4 linked regions of the Homo sapiens genome follow. The protein of the gene in region 1 purifies or fractionates together with the protein of each later gene. This does not show direct contact. Each region holds a gene or a part of one and is shown in the gene's direction. Other genes may lie near its edges.

The links. Proteins that work in one complex are often made in the same cells at the same time.
Region 2: the proteins of LDLRAD4 (region 1) and CUEDC1 purify together in Homo sapiens (affinity purification with mass spectrometry; 4 studies listed by BioGRID and IntAct, with this or other methods). This does not show direct contact.
Region 3: the proteins of LDLRAD4 (region 1) and ANKRD13A purify together in Homo sapiens (affinity purification with mass spectrometry; 4 studies listed by BioGRID and IntAct, with this or other methods). This does not show direct contact.
Region 4: the proteins of LDLRAD4 (region 1) and DPY19L1 purify together in Homo sapiens (affinity purification with mass spectrometry; 4 studies listed by BioGRID and IntAct, with this or other methods). This does not show direct contact.

The regions. Positions count from the first base shown.
Region 1 is NC_000018.10:13,619,778-13,624,887, forward strand, and holds part of LDLRAD4 (low-density lipoprotein receptor class A domain-containing protein 4 isoform alpha 1), read left to right. Parts: intron 1-1,339; coding exon 1,340-1,494; intron 1,495-5,110. UniProt on the Homo sapiens protein: Functions as a negative regulator of TGF-beta signaling and thereby probably plays a role in cell proliferation, differentiation, apoptosis, motility, extracellular matrix production and immunosuppression.
Region 2 is NC_000017.11:57,944,444-57,949,204, reverse strand, and holds part of CUEDC1 (CUE domain-containing protein 1), read left to right. Parts: intron 1-2,312; exon of another isoform or gene 2,313-3,033; intron 3,034-4,761.
Region 3 is NC_000012.12:110,023,138-110,027,898, forward strand, and holds part of ANKRD13A (ankyrin repeat domain-containing protein 13A), read left to right. Parts: intron 1-908; coding exon 909-975; intron 976-2,604; coding exon 2,605-2,686; intron 2,687-4,567; coding exon 4,568-4,629; intron 4,630-4,761. UniProt on the Homo sapiens protein: Ubiquitin-binding protein that specifically recognizes and binds 'Lys-63'-linked ubiquitin. Does not bind 'Lys-48'-linked ubiquitin.
Region 4 is NC_000007.14:34,932,017-34,936,777, reverse strand, and holds part of DPY19L1 (protein C-mannosyl-transferase DPY19L1), read left to right. Parts: intron 1-4,761. UniProt on the Homo sapiens protein: C-mannosyltransferase that mediates the C-mannosylation tryptophan residues on target proteins.

The DNA.
Region 1 (5,110 bases):
CACAGGGAACAGTGATGTTCCCACCAGCCTGGCCTCTCCCTGCCTGCGGGGGCAGGGGGCCCTTGGCAGGTCCACCTGCTCTCTGCACAGCTCAGCCACCAGCCTCCTACACAGTCTGCTCTTCATTCTCAAGACACCAGCGCCTCTCCTATAGGCCCCAGTGTCCCACTGCCCTCCACTCCCACCCTCAGTCCCTAGGGTGTGGGGGTCTGAGGGTGGAAGTGGAGGGCCGTGCTGAAGGGTAGGACATGTGGGGATCCAGAGAACCCCTCGTCCAGCCTCACCCTCGGTTCCCAGGGTGTGGGCAGCAGACGCACACAGTCGTAGCCACTGGGGAGGCACCACCTGATCTCTGCCTGCATCGCCCCACGTATGAGCGGATACACTTGACAGATATGCCTCCCCACTGGCCGGGGCCTGAGCCCTGCTGCGGCACATGTACGTGCATGCATGTGTGTGCATGTGTGCTGTGAGCCCAGGGCAGCACAGTTGATGGCTTCTCTCTTCTTACTCCTGCCTCCCCCAGATTCCTGCACTGTCTTCCTCTTAGCATCCCCGAGCCCCTTGCTCTGAATTTACATCACTGCACGGTCAGTCACTTCCTTCCAGCACGGGGGACAAGGAGTGAAGCAGGCAGCAGAGCCATGGGCTGGAAGAGGGGAGCAGAAAGTGGCTCCAGGCCGCCCGTGAGCCCTCGACCTGCTTCCTCTCCCAAAACGGGGGTCTGGCTCACCTGCTTCCAGCTGCCGGCCCAATGTGCTGTGACTGGAAGTCACTCTGTGTTGCTGGACTCACATGTGAAGTGTGTGTCAATGGCATTTAAGGAATCTTTGGGGTGGTGGTGTCAGAAACCCAGGGGAGACCTGACCACTCCTAAAGTGCTGTGCCTGAAGGCCTGGAAACAATGTGGATGTTTCCTAACTCACCTGCAGAGCCACAGCCTTGGAGGCAAGGGGCTGAAGTTGATTTTTCCTTTCAAGTATGGGTCCCTAGGGGAATTGCTTTGAGAAACTCCACTCAACCATAAAGACGGGTTTAACTTTTCTAGAGCGGTGACATTGGAGAAATAGCTTCAGTTTGTGGAGACGTTCTCAGCTCCCTGTGGTGGGGGATGGCAGAGGCTTCCCGCTCCCCGCAGCTGGTTTGCACAGCCTCCCGACTGTGCCGTGGTGTCTCCTTCCCTAAAGTGGGACAGTCGTTTCTGTGTCCTGCTGGCCTCTGAGGAACAGACGTGTGTGAGAGGCCTTCAGGGCCTGATGGCTGGGGTGGTGACAGTGCCTGGAGAATGGGTGGGGACTGGAGGGGCCAGGTGGCTAACCACTCTCCTCTTCCATGGCAGCGGAGCTGGAGTTCGCCCAAATCATCATCATCGTCGTGGTGGTCACGGTGATGGTGGTGGTCATCGTCTGCCTGCTGAACCACTACAAAGTCTCCACGCGGTCCTTCATCAACCGCCCGAACCAGAGCCGGAGGCGGGAGGACGGGCTGCCGCAGGTGAGTACCCTGGCCGCCCCGGCTCCAGAGTCAGGCAGCTGCAAGAGGCTTAGGAGCCCATCAGGGTTCAGAGGCCGGGAGTGCTTTCAGTTGACATGTAACAAACGGGGCGAAGCGCACCTCGTAAGTGTTCCACTTAGTGAGTCCCCACAAACTGAACACACCAGTGTGACCAGCACCCAGTGAACATACAGACACAGCAGTCCCCCCAGAAGCCTGCGTGACCCCTCCCAGGTCTCCCCTGGATCTTTGCTGCCCGACGTGGCTTTGCCAGCTTCTGAGCTGTGCACGAACGGGACCGGCCCTGGGTGGTCCCTCGTGCCTGGCTCCTCTGGCTTGGCAGTGCACTTGTGAGATTCATTGTGTTGTAAAATCCTGTCCTGAGCTGGGTCCTGGAGGTGCTGCGGGGACAAATCACGCGCTCATCGTCACTAAACGTGCCGGCAGCACATGGGTGCCATGAGCTGGAGGACGCCTGGAGCTTAAGGCCTCGGGAGCTTCCTGGGGATCGGCGGTGGGGTTGTTGGCGGTGGGCTTGTCAGCGGTGGGCTTGTCGGCGGTAGGGTTGTCGGCGGTGGGTTGTGGAGGGTGGGGTTGTGGAGGGTGGGGTTGTCGGCGGTGGACCCTCAAGCCAAACTGCACTATGATCAAACTTGAGAGACCAGGGGCTGCTGTCCCAAGCCTGTTTTACAGGCTGTGGTTTTGATGGCTTCCAGCCAGAGGGTTAGGAGCGGTGAGTTCAGCGAGCGTATAAATCCTTGGCTTCCGTGATGGGCAGCGAGGCCGAGTCTCCACAGTGTGGAGCCCTGCGGTATGCTGAGCACAGGAGCCGGTCCTTACGGAGCATCCCTCTTCAGGAACAGGGCTGTGCAGTTCCGGCTCCCACCCTGACTTACAGAGCCTGTCCAGGGTATGGGGTGCAGCTGTCCAGGTGGGTTTCCTGGGGTGGCCGCTGGCCCTGGGACCCCTCTCAGGAGTGCAGGCTCACACTTCACTAGGATCATTGGTGCAGCCATCCATATGGGCAGAGCTGAGGTTTGCTGTCTGCTCTGCAGCTCCTGCAGGTAGTGGGGAGAAGGAAGGGGTGGGTGCTACCGAGTGCTATCTTCAGACCATGGTGAGGGCTAGACGGGGCAGCCTCGGGGAGGAGATGGGATGCCAGGGGAAGACGTGCACCCTTGACAGCCGTTTCCTCCTCTTGCCCCCTGCATCCTCTCTTGCCCCTTCTGTCCTCTCTCTGGATGCCCAGTTCAGTCCACAAGCCCCTCTGGCCCTGTTGTGTTACTTTCCTCGAGCCTCCACAGCATCCTGGGGTCCTTTGTCTGGTGTCCACAGAGCTGCGCCATCCAGACGCACTGAACACTTTGGCATCCTGATGCCTGTAGATTGTTGGACAGAGGGAGGACTAATTCTTCTGAAGTTCTAAACACACAGTGTATGGGATTCACCTGTGTTTTGAGAGAGGACAGGGAGAAAATCTCATCACAGCAGCAGTTTCAGAACCGCAGAAGGCTCAGACATCGCTGCTTTGCCTTAATGTATTACGGGCTGTGAACGCCACCCCTGGACTTGGTGGAAACAAGCACAGCCTTCCTTGGCCTTCTCTCCAGGAGCTCCAGAACGCTTGGGGTCTCTGTGCGCAGGCACACAGGGAGTTTTCTGTCCCCTGCCTGGGCGCTCCCCAGTCTTCCTCCCAGACTTGCCCTGGTGTTGGCTTCTCTCTCCCTAGTGTGGGTCAGGCAGCTCCTTGCTCTGTTCCTGGTGCAGACCCAGCCCCGCTTGCTGTCCCTGTTCATAGCACCTTGTGTCCTGAACACCAGCACACTGGCCACACCCTTACCAACCAAGAGGCCCAGCAGAAAAGCAAAAAGTGTCAAAAAAGTGTCTTCTGTGTCATGTGGCGGCAGATTTGTGTGATGCCCTTTCCCGGGAAGCGCTGGCTGCCCCACCTGCAGAGCCTCCCTTCCCTGAAATCAGGAAGGTGACAGAGCGATGTTCAGAGGTCCCTTCAGGGCTGCACACTGCGTGGCAGGTGAAGACATTCGGCAGCCAGTGAATTGTGTCCACACAGTGGTCCACATCCCTGTCTGGGCCTCGTTTTGTTAATGTGCACATACAGTGTTCCCCCTGAGAGCTCCGTTCTGGAGCTGAGCTGGGGCTTGCAGAGATCCGGCTGCACCGAGCTATTTCTCCTTTTTTTCTGAGTAACCTGGAACTGGGAGCTGTCCCTCCTCGAGGTGTGGCTGTTCCTCCTACGGCTTCAGCGTAGCTTAGCAAAGGACTCTGTGTGATGTTTCATAAAACACAAGATGCATTCCAGCACGATGACCAGAGGCAGCTCGGCCCAGGCCCTTGCTCCACTTCCCGATCTGGTGTATTAGCCCAGTTGATGGTTCCCCAAAAGAGAAAAGAGTGGCAGCTGATGAGGAAGAAACCTCCATTCTCTCCTGGACACAGACTCAGGCCTTGCTAATACTATGGGTGTGGCCATGCTATCCATTTCCCTCTCTCTGCCCTGAGGGTCCCCTAACCCAGGTCCTCTCCACCCAGGAATGCCCCCACGCAGCCAGGCTTCCTGCCTCCTAATTCCCTACTTCTAACTTCTTTTAAGAAATGCCTGTTCCCCGTATACAGTATTAGGGGAGCGATCTGATTCATTTACACTCAGCTCAGGAGTCTCGATCAGGGCTGATTCTGCCAAATGTCTAGGGGACATTTGCAGTGTCTGGCATCATAAGGGGGAATCCTACAATGTGTCCTACAGTACGCGGGCGGCCCTGCAACAAAGACTCATCTGTACAGTGCGTCCTACAGTGCACAGGCAGTCCCGCAACAAAGACTCATCTGAGTGGATGTGAGCGGTGCTGAGGCGGAGGAGCCGGCCCCACCAGGTGCTGAGCACTGCCGGACCCACCAGGTGCTGAGCACTGCCGGACCCAGGGGCACTTCACTGTAAAAGAGGCTGCCTGTTACCATGAGGGGGTCTCTCTAGGCTGGCTCTGAGGCATCCACAGAGCGGAGAGCTCTTCCCAGCAGTACGAGTTTGGGGTCTGGTCTGGGACTCTGCCTTGGGAACAGTTTCCCCAGTGACTCCTGCCTCCTCTGCTCATCCAGCCATTCAGTGGACACTCCGCAGGAGCCAGGCACTGAGTAGGAGGGGGAAACAGTGGCCATGCCCCGCCTCCGCCACCAGCAGCACCTGCAGTCCCCTGGCGGAGGCCAAGACCCCGCTGCCATTCTCTCCATCTTCCTAGGGGAGGCTAGGGGTCTGGCTGGCCGATTGTGCCTTTGGGATGGGGGAGTGTCAGGCGTGGGAGCTGTAGGAGGTGTTTGGGGCAGGTATGAGGACCTGTGTCTCCTCCGTCCCCATGCCTGGCCTGGCCCATGTGCAGTTGGCGAGGGCAGTTCCAAGTTCCCCGCCTTCCCCATCCCTAGGTGACCACCTGTGTCAGGAAGCCCCCTCCCAAGGGGCTTGGAAGGGGCTGGGAAGGCACGGCTGGCTGGTCAGCATGGCAGGGAGGGCCCTGTGCCCCCTGGCAGAGCCTGGCAGTCCTCTGTCTCCTGGGCTCCCTGTGCTGCTGTGCAGGCCTGTGCTCCAGGGCAAGGCGGCTGGGGA
Region 2 (4,761 bases), on another chromosome or scaffold:
AGTTGGGGCAGGGAAGGCTTCCTGGAGGAGGGGCCGCTTGAGCTGAGTGAGGACAAGATAAAGTGGCTGCTGCCTCCTGGGCTTTTGATCTGGCATGGGAGCACATTGTTCTCCCCCTTGGTGAACTCTGAGTAGAGCTAAGTAGCGGTGTGGGTTTCAGAGAAGGGTCAGGTTTTCTGGATTCTGTAGCACCCTTGCCAGGGTGAGGCAGGAACTGGGCAGTGTGGTCAGCTTTCCTGATGCCTTTGTGGTTTTTAACAGCTGAGAAACACTGCCACCTCTTGTAATGCCTGCAGTGAACATGGTGAAGAAGACATAAAAGTCCCTTAAGAGTCATTGCTCAGAACACAGTGATTCACTCTTGTCTCTCTGCACTTAGAACCAGAGGCAAATGAATTTAAACTACAGAGGGAGGATTCAAGTAAGGTATGAGGAAGACATTCCAGATAGGATGTGAGATGTAAGAAAAGTGACTCATAGGCACAGAGGGGAATGGCCTCCCCTGAAGGTCTTCAGAAATGGGAACAAGTTTCATTTGTCTTTGTGGTTTAAGAGGTTTCATCTGGAGACAGGAAGATGAAGTAGAGGCCCCTAGAGGTCCATGTCAGCTCGGTGATCGGAGGATAAAAGGAGCTGGAATTTTTGAGCTAGAAGATTACTTAAATTTGGCCTAACCCCTCCTTTGACTGTTGGAGTGATTGAAGAATGCCCGATAACACTGAGCAGCTCATCCATGAATGAGTGAGCCAAGGCACAAACAGAGTCTGCCCAACAGCTCTGGGCCAGGTGACCCTGGCCCGCAATGTTCCTGGTCAGCATCACCCGGGGGTGCTCACTGGGAGGGACCTACAGCTCTCGGGGATGGAGTCCAAGCCGTGTGAGGAGAGCTCAGGAAACCTGGAAGTAGTGGAGCATTTGTCTTGGTATTGGAATACAGAAAGCATCAGCCCCCATACACACAGTGTTTCTGAGAATGGCACTCTCAGTTGGAGCTAGTGGGTTATCTCCTAGATGCACCTAGAAGAGTTTTAGGCATATATATGAGGCCCTCAGTAAACTTTGTTGGATGAATGAGTAAATAACAGATAATCCAAGACTTAATTTCTCTTTGACCATACCCTTGTTAGGCCAGTGCACTTAACCCTTCTTATTCTGTTTTGCTTAAGCTGACAGTAGGCTTTTTTTCATAATACTGCCTAGCCACAAAGAAAGCTGCCCACAAGTATGCTGGGGGCAAGGGTAAGAAGAGAAAACACAGTTTAGGATCCTTCTCAACATTTATACTTCTTTGAAGGATCATCAAGGCCTGACATTATGTTCAGTCATAATGGCTTTTGCTTTTTTTCTTTTGTATTGTTCCAAGCACAAAAGTGTTTTTATTTTTTATTATTTATTTATTTATGAGACAGGGTCTTGCTCTTTCACCCAGGCTGGAGTGCAGTGTGGTGTGATCTCAGCTCACTGCAACCTCTGCCTCCCAGTTTCAAATGATTCTTGTGTCTCAGCCTCCCGAGAAGCTGGGATTACAGACATACGCCATCACAAACAGCTAATTTTTTTGTGTTTTTAGTAAAGATGGAGTTTCACCATGTTGGCCTGGCTGGTCTCGAACTCCTGAGCTCAAGAGATCCACTCGCCTTAGCCTCCCAAAGTACTGGGATTACAGGTGTGAGCCACCGTGCCTGGCTCGAGCACAAAAGTAAAACGCTTCGTTTTTCAAATTTACGAAAAACATGTAGTATAACAGTCTCAGCCACATTACAGCAAGATGGTTACAGGGATCTCAGAAGAGAACAAAGCTTGCTCTTGGAAGATAATCTGATTAAGAGTGAACCAAATATGAACGGATGCTGGACAATGAGTTTAAAAATAATACCGGGTGGTGAACTTTAGCTCACGGGGTGAACTGAAATAGACTTGTGCAAATAAGAGAGAAGTAGCAGCAGCAAACACGACGGCAAGAACTTTTGCTTCCTCCTCTAATCCCATGATTCCCTATTCATTAAGAAAGTATTTGATGTTAGGAGGGCACTGCAAAGCTTTTTTTTTTTTTTTTTCTCCTGGTGACCAGCAAGCTGGATTTGGAGCTCTGTTAAGGGGAAGCCTCTCTGTGGTCATGTAGGGTGATCAGGCTCCTGAAATGATTTCACTTTGCTCTGGTCTGAGATTAGTTTCGGTTTCAGGCTGTACCCACAGCTGGGAGAGAGCTAGTGAGCTCCAGGGAGGGTCAGCTGGGGGAGTTTCACCATTGGCTGTGTCAGCCAATGGCAAGGTGTGTGAACAGGGAACTCCTGTGTTGAGCAGAGAGAGGAAGAAGATGCGTCCGAGATGGAGTTGGGGAAGGCAGCACTTGCGTGTTTGTGTGTCCAGAGACCGGGCTGGTGATGATGAGCAGGAGGGAGCGTATGAAGATATCAGATGTGCAAAGGACAAAACCCCCACCCAATTACAGGACCACTGAGCCTCGAGCTAGGGAAGTCTTAAAACAGATTGCCTGGGCCGGGTGGATTTTCCCTGAGCAGGTGTACACCTGAAAGGAAAGCAAGTGTGAGCATGCCACAGAGTCAACATACATCTTGTACTGGCATTCTTAAGATCAGCCTCTACGGTGCAGCATTTTCTTGCATATGAGTTTCCTTTAAAAAAAAAAAAGTCAAATTAAAGTTTGAGAACTGATAGTTGCGAACTTGCAGACCTTTGCATGTTGGTGGATCCTTTGAGAACTTCAAGCTGTCATTTTTCCTGAGACGGCTTGAGGCCAGTCTGGTTGGTTCACAGGACATCATTACCCTAGAAAATCAGCAGTTTTCCTCCCCTGACTGGTTCTGGGTGAGGCATACACAGATGTTTCCTTCCCTCAGCAGTACTAGAGCATCATTACATTTTATTTCTCAAAGTTATAAATTCATTTTATTTTGAAAAGAGAGAATCACTGAATTTTACAGCTGGAAAGGATTCTGAAGACTGCTTGCTTGGTTGGCTCCTGGAGGAATCTGAGGTTGTGGGTCGTTAAGTGCTTTGAAAAGACCAATGGTATGTAATTAAGAATACTGAATCAGAATGCCTGTGCTTCATCCCAGCCTCTGCTAGTTGCTGCTGTGTTCTTGGGGCAAGTTACTCAATCTCTCTGAGTCTTAGTTTCCTGATCCATACAGTGGGAGTAATAATATTACCAAATGGTTTTTTGGTGTTTTTTTTTTATTTTTTATTTTTGAGGTGGAGTCTTGCTCTGTCACCCACAGCCTCCACCCGCCCGGGTTCAAGTAATTCTCCTGTCTCAGCCTCCTGAGTAGCTGGGATTACAGGCGCCCTCCATTACCCCATGCCCAGCTAATTTTTGTATTTTTAGTAGAGACAGTGTTTCACCATGTTGGCCAGGCTGGTCTTGAACTCCTGACCTCAACTGATCCGCCCACCTCAGCCTCCCAAAGTGCTGGGATTATAGGTATGAGCCACCACGCCCGGCCAAAATATTACATAATGATTGTTAATTACTACCAAATACTTATTAAGCCCCTAGCACAATGTTTTGCATATTGTAAGTCCTCATTAAATGTTAGCTGCTGCTGTTATTGTTATTATTTTCATTTTGTGAAATCACACAGCTACTTAGTGGTAAAGCCAGGGCTACAATGTTAAATTCTTTTTATTCCAATTCTTTTCAGCATGGCCATAAGGAGATTTCACCACATTCTGGAAATATGGGAAAACCTTTACAAAAATGTTTATGCGGATGTCTTTGCATGAATGTTCATAATACAGCTAGAAGAAATGGGCTTAACCTATTTATTAGATATAGTTAGACTTTGGGCATGGGGGCATATGTCTACCAAAGAATTTGTTTCCACAAATATTATTTACTAGTGTTTAAAGGTTTCCTGAATGCTAGATTGGTTGCCTCTGCTGGAAGATTGGGGTGTTTTTAGATGTTTTCATTGAAGAGTTCTTCTCAAGTTGGAAACATCCATTTCAATGAGTTGTGGTGGCAAAGCAGGCTTTTGTGCGTAATGGAAATATTTCTGTAGCCTGGCTGCTATTTATCAAGGGTGAAGACAGTGCAGATGTTTTGAAAAAAATATATAGGCTTGGCAGAAGTCCATGTGTCTTAGGCCATGCCTACACAAATCCATTCCCAAATGATCCGTACTGACCTTTAGCAAATCGATGACAGCCTCGGAGCCTCCCAAGGGAGCCGTTTTTGTCTGAAACATTGTTGAGGCCAGTGTGACCCCTGGCCTTGCATGGTCCTTGACACCTCTGATGGGGCGACACCCTCTCCCTAAGGCAGCTTTGGTGTGTTTTCGTGGAATATGAAGACGAATGGAAATGAATTTTGTTTGGTGAATCTTGAAAGATTCCTGGAGATACTGTCGCTCTGTAGAGATTGAAATCTGTTCTTGATGCTGATCCGTGGGACTTCTCAAATCTCCATGCCTGAAGGAGACAGTGTGTTAAAGTGTGAAATGTGTGAGTGTGCAAAGGAGTTGATGACTGGAGTTCCAGTCTTAGCTCTGCCATGTGTGGGCTGTGTCATTCTGAGCAGGTCACTTAGTTTGTTAATTTATAGTTTTCTTGAGGCTAATCTATTATTATACTCCACAACAACACATGGCTATTGACTACATATGTTAAATAGAGCTGGTAAGAATAATCTCTGTGGCACAAGATTCTTGTAATAGTCTAATAATGGCTAATGGCCAGGCGCAGTGGCTCACGCCTGTAATCCCAGCACTTTGGGAGGCCAAGGCGGGCAGATCACCT
Region 3 (4,761 bases), on another chromosome or scaffold:
TCAGGCTGTTGCCGTAGCCAGGGCCAAGAGGAGCTGGGATGTGATGTCCTAGACAAAGGGTAGGGCTGGTCAGGGATCCCCTGTGAGAGGGAGCGTTTCCCAGGGCAAGCTGCTTTGAAAAAGAATCAGAGCCTCCTGGCTGCTTTTGGTTCCTAAATACATTTTTTTTCAGGAGTATGTTGAGTTGAATAACTGAGATTTTGGGCATATTACCAATGCTGCATCTGCCACTGGAATGCTGGGCTACTTTAAAAGGAGTTCCACAGAGATGGAATTAACAGCTGGGCTAAAAAAATCTGTTTTTCACATCCTTTGCCCTGCTGCACCAAACCTGCCCAAACATGTGACTCAGCTATTTTGCAGACCTAATGGCATCTCCAAGCAGCTCACCACAGTGATGAGTTCCTGGCCCACCTGCTCTTTTGTAAGGAGCAGGATGGTCTGTGCCTCATTGTTCTAAGAATTCCTCGAGTGAGATGTGGCTACTTGTGGAGATCCCACCATTGACATGCATGTCCCCAGTTAAGATGACCCAGATAAATGCTCTGACCTGGTTACCACCTTGTGGCAAGCCCTTGGATGCTGGTCATCTTCAGTCACTTCTTTGGGACTGCTGTCCAATAAATGTCACCACCTTTGTCCTCAATGCTGGCAGTTTTGTAAAGAAGCCAAGATTGGAGGCTTTCTATGCCTGGGGTGAGGCAAATTGATTAATAACTGTGGGAGGAGGGTGGAGGGTGCATAAGCCATCTGTCATTGCTAACCGCCTCCTGTGGACAATAGGACCATGATTTCCAAGTGTCCTTCACTAACTTAAGCTGGGGGGGAAAAAAACTATAAAGGCTACAGATATAAATCTGAATGGCATATTGTACATGTAGAAATTTGTGGTGTTCACTTTTTATCAGAACTAAATCCGGATTCTGGGGCTGGAGGACAGATAAAGCAGAAGTTGTTAATGGTTACGAAGCAAAGGTAAAAGGAAACTCTTAAAATAAGATTTAATATAGCTATTTAGCTTCTATGCAAATGAGGAATCTGTTCCCATTTTTTTCATGCATCTGTGCCATGGAGATGCTCTGGGGAATGAGAACTGTCTAATGTGTCTCTCACTTGGATGTTTGATTTTGTCTTATTTGACTTTCAGAAAATGGGATAGCATGCCCTGAGGAGGTCTGTAGCTATGCTAAAGAGAAACAATATGGTAGAGAAATGAGTACAGGTACCAGTTGTTCTGGTAGGAATGACAAGCTAGTCATTCCCTTAATTATTTAAAAAAAAAAAAGGAAGAGGAAGGATTAGACTTCACATGTGTTCAAATGTTGTGTAGTAGCTTTTGAGTCTCTTTTTTGTTAAATCAGCTTAATTGTAATCAGCAGGCGCACAGCCCATTTGCATGACATCAGTGCATTTAAAACATAGTTGTAATAGTGGAGACGATTGTTGATCCAGTCATCTGGCATTTTGTCAGCTGGAAAGCTGTTTCCTGGCCTTTCAGTCCCTCAGTACAACAGGGATTGATGGCTTTTGGTGTTGGAGCCCAGTGCTGCAGGGTCCTCTGGTGGCCTCTGAGTGAGCAAAGAAAGGCTTACGTCATGCTCAGCAAGATACATTTAGAAGCACTTGTCATAGTGCTGAGTGTGTTTTCTGCAGCTTTGAATGTTGGGGCTCCTCACGTGGCATATAGAGAGAATTCTTTGTTAACTGTTATGTTTGATTTTCTAGACCACCATATTCCCCAGTTATCCTTGATAACAGAGCATTTGCTCTGGCAGTTACAATAATTTTTGTCAGTGCACAGAATGCCTTTTAAATAGTGACTTGCTGGTTTTCTCTACAGCTCATAAGTCTATAGAGAACCTTGTGTTCATACCTTTCTCTTCTGCCCAGCAGATGGCTGTCTGAGTCATACTAGTATTACAAGACTACCAGCGGAGGCTGGGTGCAGTGGCTCACGCCTGTAATCCCAGCACTTTGGGAGGCCCAAGTAGGCAGATCACTTGAGGCCAGGATTTTGAGACCAGCCTGGCCAACATGGTGAAACCCCGTCTCTACTAAAAATACGAAAATTAACCAGTCATAGTAGCACATGCCTGTAATCCCAGCTACTCTGGAGGCTGAGGCACGAGAATCGCTTGAACCCAGGAGGCGGAGGCTGCAGTGAGCAGAGATCACGCCACTGCACTCCAGCCTGGGCAACAGAGGGAGACTCTGTCTCAAAAAAAAAAAAAAAAAAAATTACCAACAGAAGTACAGGATCCTGGTTTGGGTACCTTAGTTTAATAGAAACCCAGGTGGAAACCTAGATTGCAGGGCATTTGTTTGAGACTATTTAGCCACAGCAGGGCAAGCAGGAAGATGCAGCCTGTCACTGCTAACTCCTTAGTATTAAAACTGTCAAACATGGGAGGTAACTGCTGATGCATTTTTCAGTTGATAGTTTATATACTTTCTCTGAAGGATCCTAATGATAGTTAACCATTTCTCATTTTTATTTTGCTGGATTGTTTTCTGTTTTTTGCTTCAGCATTCTTGCTTTTGCTGTGCTTACTTTTGGAGTTTTGATTCCCTGTGTCACTGTTTTCTTTCGCATACACCTCTCAGGTTTACACAGTAAACAATGTGAATGTGATCACCAAAATACGCACAGAACATCTGACCGAGGAGGAAAAAAAGAGATATAAAGGTAATCACCACCACCCTCCCACCTCCTGTTTTGTTGTTATTTTTTAAGCCTAGAGGGAACTCTTTGTTGGCTCTGTTAAGTTTAGGGTTAATGTGATTGGGTTGTGTTAAGCCTAACCCTAACTTCTTCTCTCTCTCTCTCTTTTTTTTTTTTTTTGAGGCAAAGTCTCGCCCTGTCACCCAGGCTGGAGTGCAGTGGCACGACCTTGGCTCACTGCAACCTCTGCCTCCTGGGTTCAAGTGATTCTCCTGCCTCAGCCTCCTGAGTAGCTGGGATTACAAGCACCCACCACCACGCCCGGCTAATTTTTTGTATTTTCAGTAGAGACGGGGTTTCACCATGTTGGCCAGGCTGGTCTCGAACTCCTGACATCAGGTGATCCTCACCCACCTCGGCCTCCGAAAGTGCTGAGATTACAGGCGTGAGCCACCGTGCCTGGCCCCTAACTTCTTTTTTATAAAAATTTCTGGCCAGGCACGGTGGCTCATGCTTGTAATCCCAACACTTTGGGAGGCCAATGTGGGCGAGTCACCTGAGGTCGGGAATTCAAGACCAGCCTGACCAACATGGAGAAACCCCATCTGTGCTAAAAAAAAATACAAAATTAGCTGGGTGTGGTGGCCCATGGCTGTAATCCCAGCTACTCAGGAGGCTGAGGCAGGAGAATCACTTGAACCTGGCAGGCGGAGGTTTTGGTGAGCTGAGATCGTGCCATTGCACTCCAGCCTGGACAACAAGAGTGAAACTCCATCTCAAAAAAAAAAAAAAAATTTCCTGGCTGAGCACGGTGGCTCACACCTGTAATCCCAACACTTTGGGAGGCCAAGGTGGGCAGATCACTTGAGGCCAGGAGTTTGAGACCAGCCTGGCCAATATGGTGAAACCCTATCTTTACTAAAAATACAAAAATTAACCAGGCGTGGTGGCGCACTCCTGTAGTCTCAGCTACTGGGGAGGCTGAGGCAGGAGAATCGCTTGAACCCCAGAGGTGGAGGTTGCTGTGAGCCAAGATTGTCCCACTGCACTCCAGCCTGGGTGACAGAGCTAGACTCTGTCTCAAAAAAAAGAAAAAGGAAAGAAAATTTCCTTAGTCTGACTCATTCTTGGAGGTGTTTCCCCATAGTTGGCCTCAGCTGTAATTAAAGCTATTCGTGAGGGCTTGTTTATGTGTTATCAAGAACAATTGTTGAATTCAGCCAAAAAAGGAGATAAGGACATTTGAGAATATTTATCATTGGAATGAGTGATTTAGTCCAAACTATTGTGATGAAAGATTTAGACAGAACTTGGGGTCCAAGCAAAAACATTGCATGTGGTTGCCACATCCCAGCCCCATCCCAGCCCCACCAGTTCTATGGCCTTGTGAAATTACTTCTGCTCTGTGCCTTAGTTCCTCAGCAGTGAAATGCAGGTGATACCCAACCTTCCTTAGAGTTATTGAGAGGATTAGATGAGTTACGACGTGGAAGCCTTTAGAATGGCGCCTGCAGTATGTGGTAAGCATGCAGTAATTGTTCACCAGCACCACCACCACCATTGCCATTACTCCACTTTGACAGATGAGGGAACTGAGGCCCAGAACACATGGGTAGCGAGTGGCCAAGGTGGGGTTGGAATCCAGGTCTGGCTCACTCCAAAATCCAGACTCTTCCCATTATTCTGCTTTAATTCTTACAACTGTTTATCTAGTTTAGAGATCCTCATGAAAAGCACCCTATAAAGGATAAATTAGTTTATGGTTATTGTGAATGATTTGATCAGCCAGTCTGTAATTGCATTTCCTAATGAGGTAGCTTGGACCAGAAACTTTAATGAAGATCTTTTTTTTATAGCCACAAGTGAGATATAATATTAGACTTTAAACTCCCTACCCCTCTGTAGCAGACAGGAACCCGCTGGAATCTTTGCTGGGAACTGTGGAACACCAATTTGGTGCACAAGGGGTAAGTTGAAGCAATGAGCTTTCATTGCAGTTAGATGAAAGGAAACAACTTGTCTGTGTCTGGGATGGCATTTACTGGATCCTGAACAGCCCACTCTATGTAAAGGCCAAAGATACCCCCAAGCTGGAATTT
Region 4 (4,761 bases), on another chromosome or scaffold:
TGATTATAGAATGATTCTCCTATGAACGTGTGCTACGTGGTTTGAATTCAGTCAGGATTTATAGAAAATGTTATTTTGTAATAATTCAGAAAATGTTTTAAGCGTTTGTGAATATGTATATGAAATTCACATACTCACCTTTAACATTGTTATATAAATTTAGGACAGAAAAGTTCTAAGCATCTCATGACGATCTTAGGAAATTATATGAAATGAATGATAGGCTGACATTTGCAATAGGAAGAACTCAGTTCTTAGCATAGCTTTCTACCAGAATGGGGATCTTCTTTATTTCTTTGGGCTTCACTCTCTTGAAACAACTGTAAGTTACTGGAACATAAAAATAATTTTCGTAACCTTTTTTCTCCAAGCTAACAATGAGCCTTTGAGAGTTCATATTCTGCCTAGACCCCTGCATAGAGTTTGAATATGTGAAAGTTGCAGAGGCTTTGTGCTGTAGAGTGTTGGGAGAGCTCCCTGGATTTGCATAGCTCTAACAGTCTCATGTTTGGGTAGGCAGAGCACTGTTTTACCCACACAAGAAGGGATATGAAGGCAAATTCAGGATGTATGGCAATAAACTTTGCACACTAAACAAAATCAGCAGACATTGAACTGACTTCAAGTCACTTACGAGCAATCAGACTGAGAGTTGGGGTGCAGAAGAGGGTGTGCTGGATTTCCCCATCTGGACCTTGACTTGCCATTTATTGTGTCTGTCACAGCAGGAGTTGAGTGGGAGGAAGCTACGAAAGTGACTCTCTCATCTGTTTTCCCCACTCATTAAAACAACACTCTCCATCTAGTACAAGATCTAAGCCAGGCTGATGACACACTGTCAGGAAACCTTGGACAGGTCCACTCTGCTTCAACCTTGACACAAAACAAAAGCTGTGCTTTCTGTCCTGACAGGGAAGCAAATGGGGAGTTCAGATAGGAGAGGAAAGTGAAGAATGACTAATATTTATCTAGTGTTTACATTTAGAGTAGGAAGTTTCTTGACAAAGCTTTCTGCCTGGTTTGGGACCTTCCTTATTTCCTTGGCCTTCACTCTCCATTTCAGTTATGATCAGCCTGAAACCCCTGTAGATTGCTGGGACGTGAAAGTATGTTGGAATGGGGGAAGCAGATGGGGAACTCAGTTAGGAGAGGAAGGGGAAGAGGGACCAATATTTATCTAGTGCTTAATCTGTGCCTGGCAATTGGTGAGCACTATGTTTAAATGATCTCATTTACAAGTGGCTTAATTGTATGGCTTGATTATTCCTTAAATATTTGACACTGTGTTTAAATATAAACACTCAAATATATTTGCATGCAAGTTGTAGATTAGTTTTAAATTAACTACAGTTCTCTGCTTTCTTTTACTCCAATAATAGAGTTGACATAGAATACATGTATTTAGAAGGAAATTATTCAGATTTTCACTAATGCTATTTGCAGATGGCTGGCCTGGGGAAACCTTGGGAAACTCAGATGAGGACTAAATAGTGTTGCACAAGGCAAACAGAGCTCCCCAAGACAGCTGTTTGCCCTCTCTTTTTCCTAAAAGCTGTTGAACTCAGGAAAACTGTGGGTCGTTCTCTACTTTCTGTGTGTCTCACTCTCTGCCACCGTGGGCCCTCAGTGTTGTAACAGTTCAGCCTTGACGTGTATGAGAAAATTACAAGGTAGAAAACCCATGCCCAGCCATATGATCATAGGTGTTCCATGTGAGTAGAAACCAGTGTCAGCAAAGGTGTGCAAAAAGTGTGCACTTGAGCCCTCTTCATGGGAACACTCACTGGCAAAACATTTCTAGGGGATAGTTTGATGAAGGGAAGGTAAGAAAAAAATTGTGCAGTCCTTTGGCAGAGTGATAATGTTGCCTCTAGAGCAGGGGTCTCCAAGCCCCCGGCCATGGACCAGTACTGGTCTGTGGCCTGTTAGGAACCCAGTCTCACAGCAGGAGGTGAGCGGAGGGTGAACAAGCATTACAGCCTGAGCTCTGGCTCCTGTCAGATGAGTGGCAGCATTAGATTCTCATAGGAGTATGAACCCTATTGTGAACTGCACATGCGGGGGATCTAGGGTACGTGCTCCTTATGAGAATCTAATGCCTGATGATCTGAGGTGAAACAATTTCATCCCAAAACCATCGCCCCCACCCTCCAGCCCATGGAAAAATTGTCTTGCAGGAAACCAGTCCCTGGTGCCAAAAAGACCGGGGACCGCTGCTCTAGAGGTTTAGTTTGCAGAAGGGAGCTCTGCACAAGACTGTTTGTAGCTGCATTGCTTTATAATGGCAAAATGGGAAACAATTAAAGTATCTGTCTGTAAAGAATTGGTTAAATAGTACATATGAGAACTAGCAGCTTTTAAAAACAGTAGAATAGATCTTTATGCACTGAGATGGAAAAATGGTTCCACGTTTTATTGTTCAGTATACAGTCCCAGAATAATTCCATTTTTGTAAAAACAACTCAAGAGCATCTGCCAGGGTTTTCCAGAGGGACAGAACTAATAGGATAGATGTGGCCGGGCGCGGTGGGTCACGCCTGTAATCCCAGCACTTTGGGAGGCTGAGATGGGCAGATCATGAGGTCAGGAGATCGAGACCATCTTGGCTAACACGGTGAAACCTTATGTCTACTAAAAATACAAAAACTTAGCTGGGCGTGGTGGTGGGCACCTGTAATCCCAGCTACTCAGGAGGCAGAGGCAGGAGAATGACGTGAACCTGGGAGGTGGAGCTTGCAGTGAGCCGAGATCACACCACTGCACTCCAGCCTGGGCGACAGAGGGAAACGCCATCTCAAAAATAAAAAAAGGATAGATGTATATATGAAATGGAGTTTATTAAGGAGTACTGACTCACACGATCACAAGGTGAGGCCCCACAATAGGCCATCTGCAAGCTGAGGAACAAAGAAGCCAGTCTGAGTCCCAAAACTTCAAAAGTAGGGAAGCTGACAGTGCAGCCTTCAATCTGTGGCTGAAGGCCCAAGGTCCCCTGGCAAACCACTGGTGTAGACCCAAGAGTCCAAAAACTGAAGAACTTGGAGTCTGATGTTCAAGGGCAGGAAACATCCAGCACAGGAGAAAGATGGAGGCCAGAAGACTCAGCCAGTCTAGTCCTTCCACAATTCTTTTGCCTGCTTTTATTCTAGCCATGCTGGCAGCTGATTAGATGGTACCCACACAGATTGAGGGTGGGTCAACCTCTCCCAGTCCACTGACTCAAACATTAATCTCCCTTGGCAACACCCTCACAGACACACCCAGAAACAATACTTTGATCCTTCAATCCAATCAAGTTGACACTCAATACTGACCATCACAGCATCTATGTATATAATGATATCTGTGTCTGTATGTGTGTCTGACATTGGAGAAAGATACAGCAGATAGCAAATATTGTATGTTCTCACTTATAAGTGGGAACTAAGCTACCAGGATGCGAAGCATAATAATGGTACGGACTGTGGACTCGGGAAGCGAGGAGTGGGGTGAGGGATAAAAGACTACACATTGGGTACACTTTACACTGCTCTGGTGGTGGGTGCACCAAAATCTCAGTAACTGCCACTGAATAACTTATCCGTGTAACCAAAAACCACTTGTTTCCCAAAAGCTATTGAAATAATTTTTTTTTTTTTAAAAAGGTCCAGCAGGATATATGCTGGATTGTTTATAGAAGTCACCTCTGAGAAATGCTATTGGAGATGATGGTGACTTTCATTTCTTAAAATGTATGTAGGTCTATATTTTGATACTTTTATAATGACTGATTATTATAAATTAAAGGTGTTATTTAAAAAGGGAAAATGATGTACATACCTGCTACGGTGTTTGCCTCATGGTGGAGAGTGAGGGAGGGACTGCTACTAAACATAAGAGGGACTTGGGAATTTTTTTCTCTTATTTAAAAATAAAAAGGGATGCAATTATGACAAACATGAGCAGTTGTCAATTCTCTATAATTTTCCCATGTTTTTCTGTTTTTTAAAATTCCTCAAAAGGTAGATAGCAGCATCCAACAGTTATATCCATAAAACTGTTCTTGATTTAAGATAAATGGTACTGTTATTTTGAAGGACTTATTTAGGCAAATGTCATATGCCAATTTATAAAGATATGTTGCTTTTGAGATTTAATTATGTGTTTAAGATGTATGCTCAACACTACCAGAATTTCTTTAAATTGATTCATTCTAGAATATCGACTGTCCAATTTAAGATGTTTTGACCTACTGATTTTTTTACTTTATGACAGTGTTAAAGCCATATGCATTCAGTAGAAAGCATATTTCAAATACCCATACAACCATTCTGTTTTTCAGTGTCAGTACAGCATTCAATAAATTACATGAGATATTCAATGTTTTGTTGTAAAATAGCATTTGTATTTGATGATTTTGTCCAACTGTAAGCTAATATAAGTGTTCCTAGCATGTTTAAGGTAGGCTAGGCTAAGCCGTGATGTTGGGTAGATTAGGTGTATTAAATGCATTTTCAACTTATGATGGGTTTATTGGAACATACCCCATTGTAAGTTGAGGAGCATCTATACAATTAATGCAGCTTCCCTGTGAACTAAGCATATTTGTTCATTATAATTTTTTAAATCAATGTCATACGTTTTTCTGTGTGAATGGTGCTAGATACCTGGTCTCTCATAATCCTCACAACAAACCTATGTCATGGTTGTTTATTTCCCCATTTTACAAATGTGAAAACTAAGACCAAGGGAAGCTACCTGCCCAGAACCACATTCTTGATA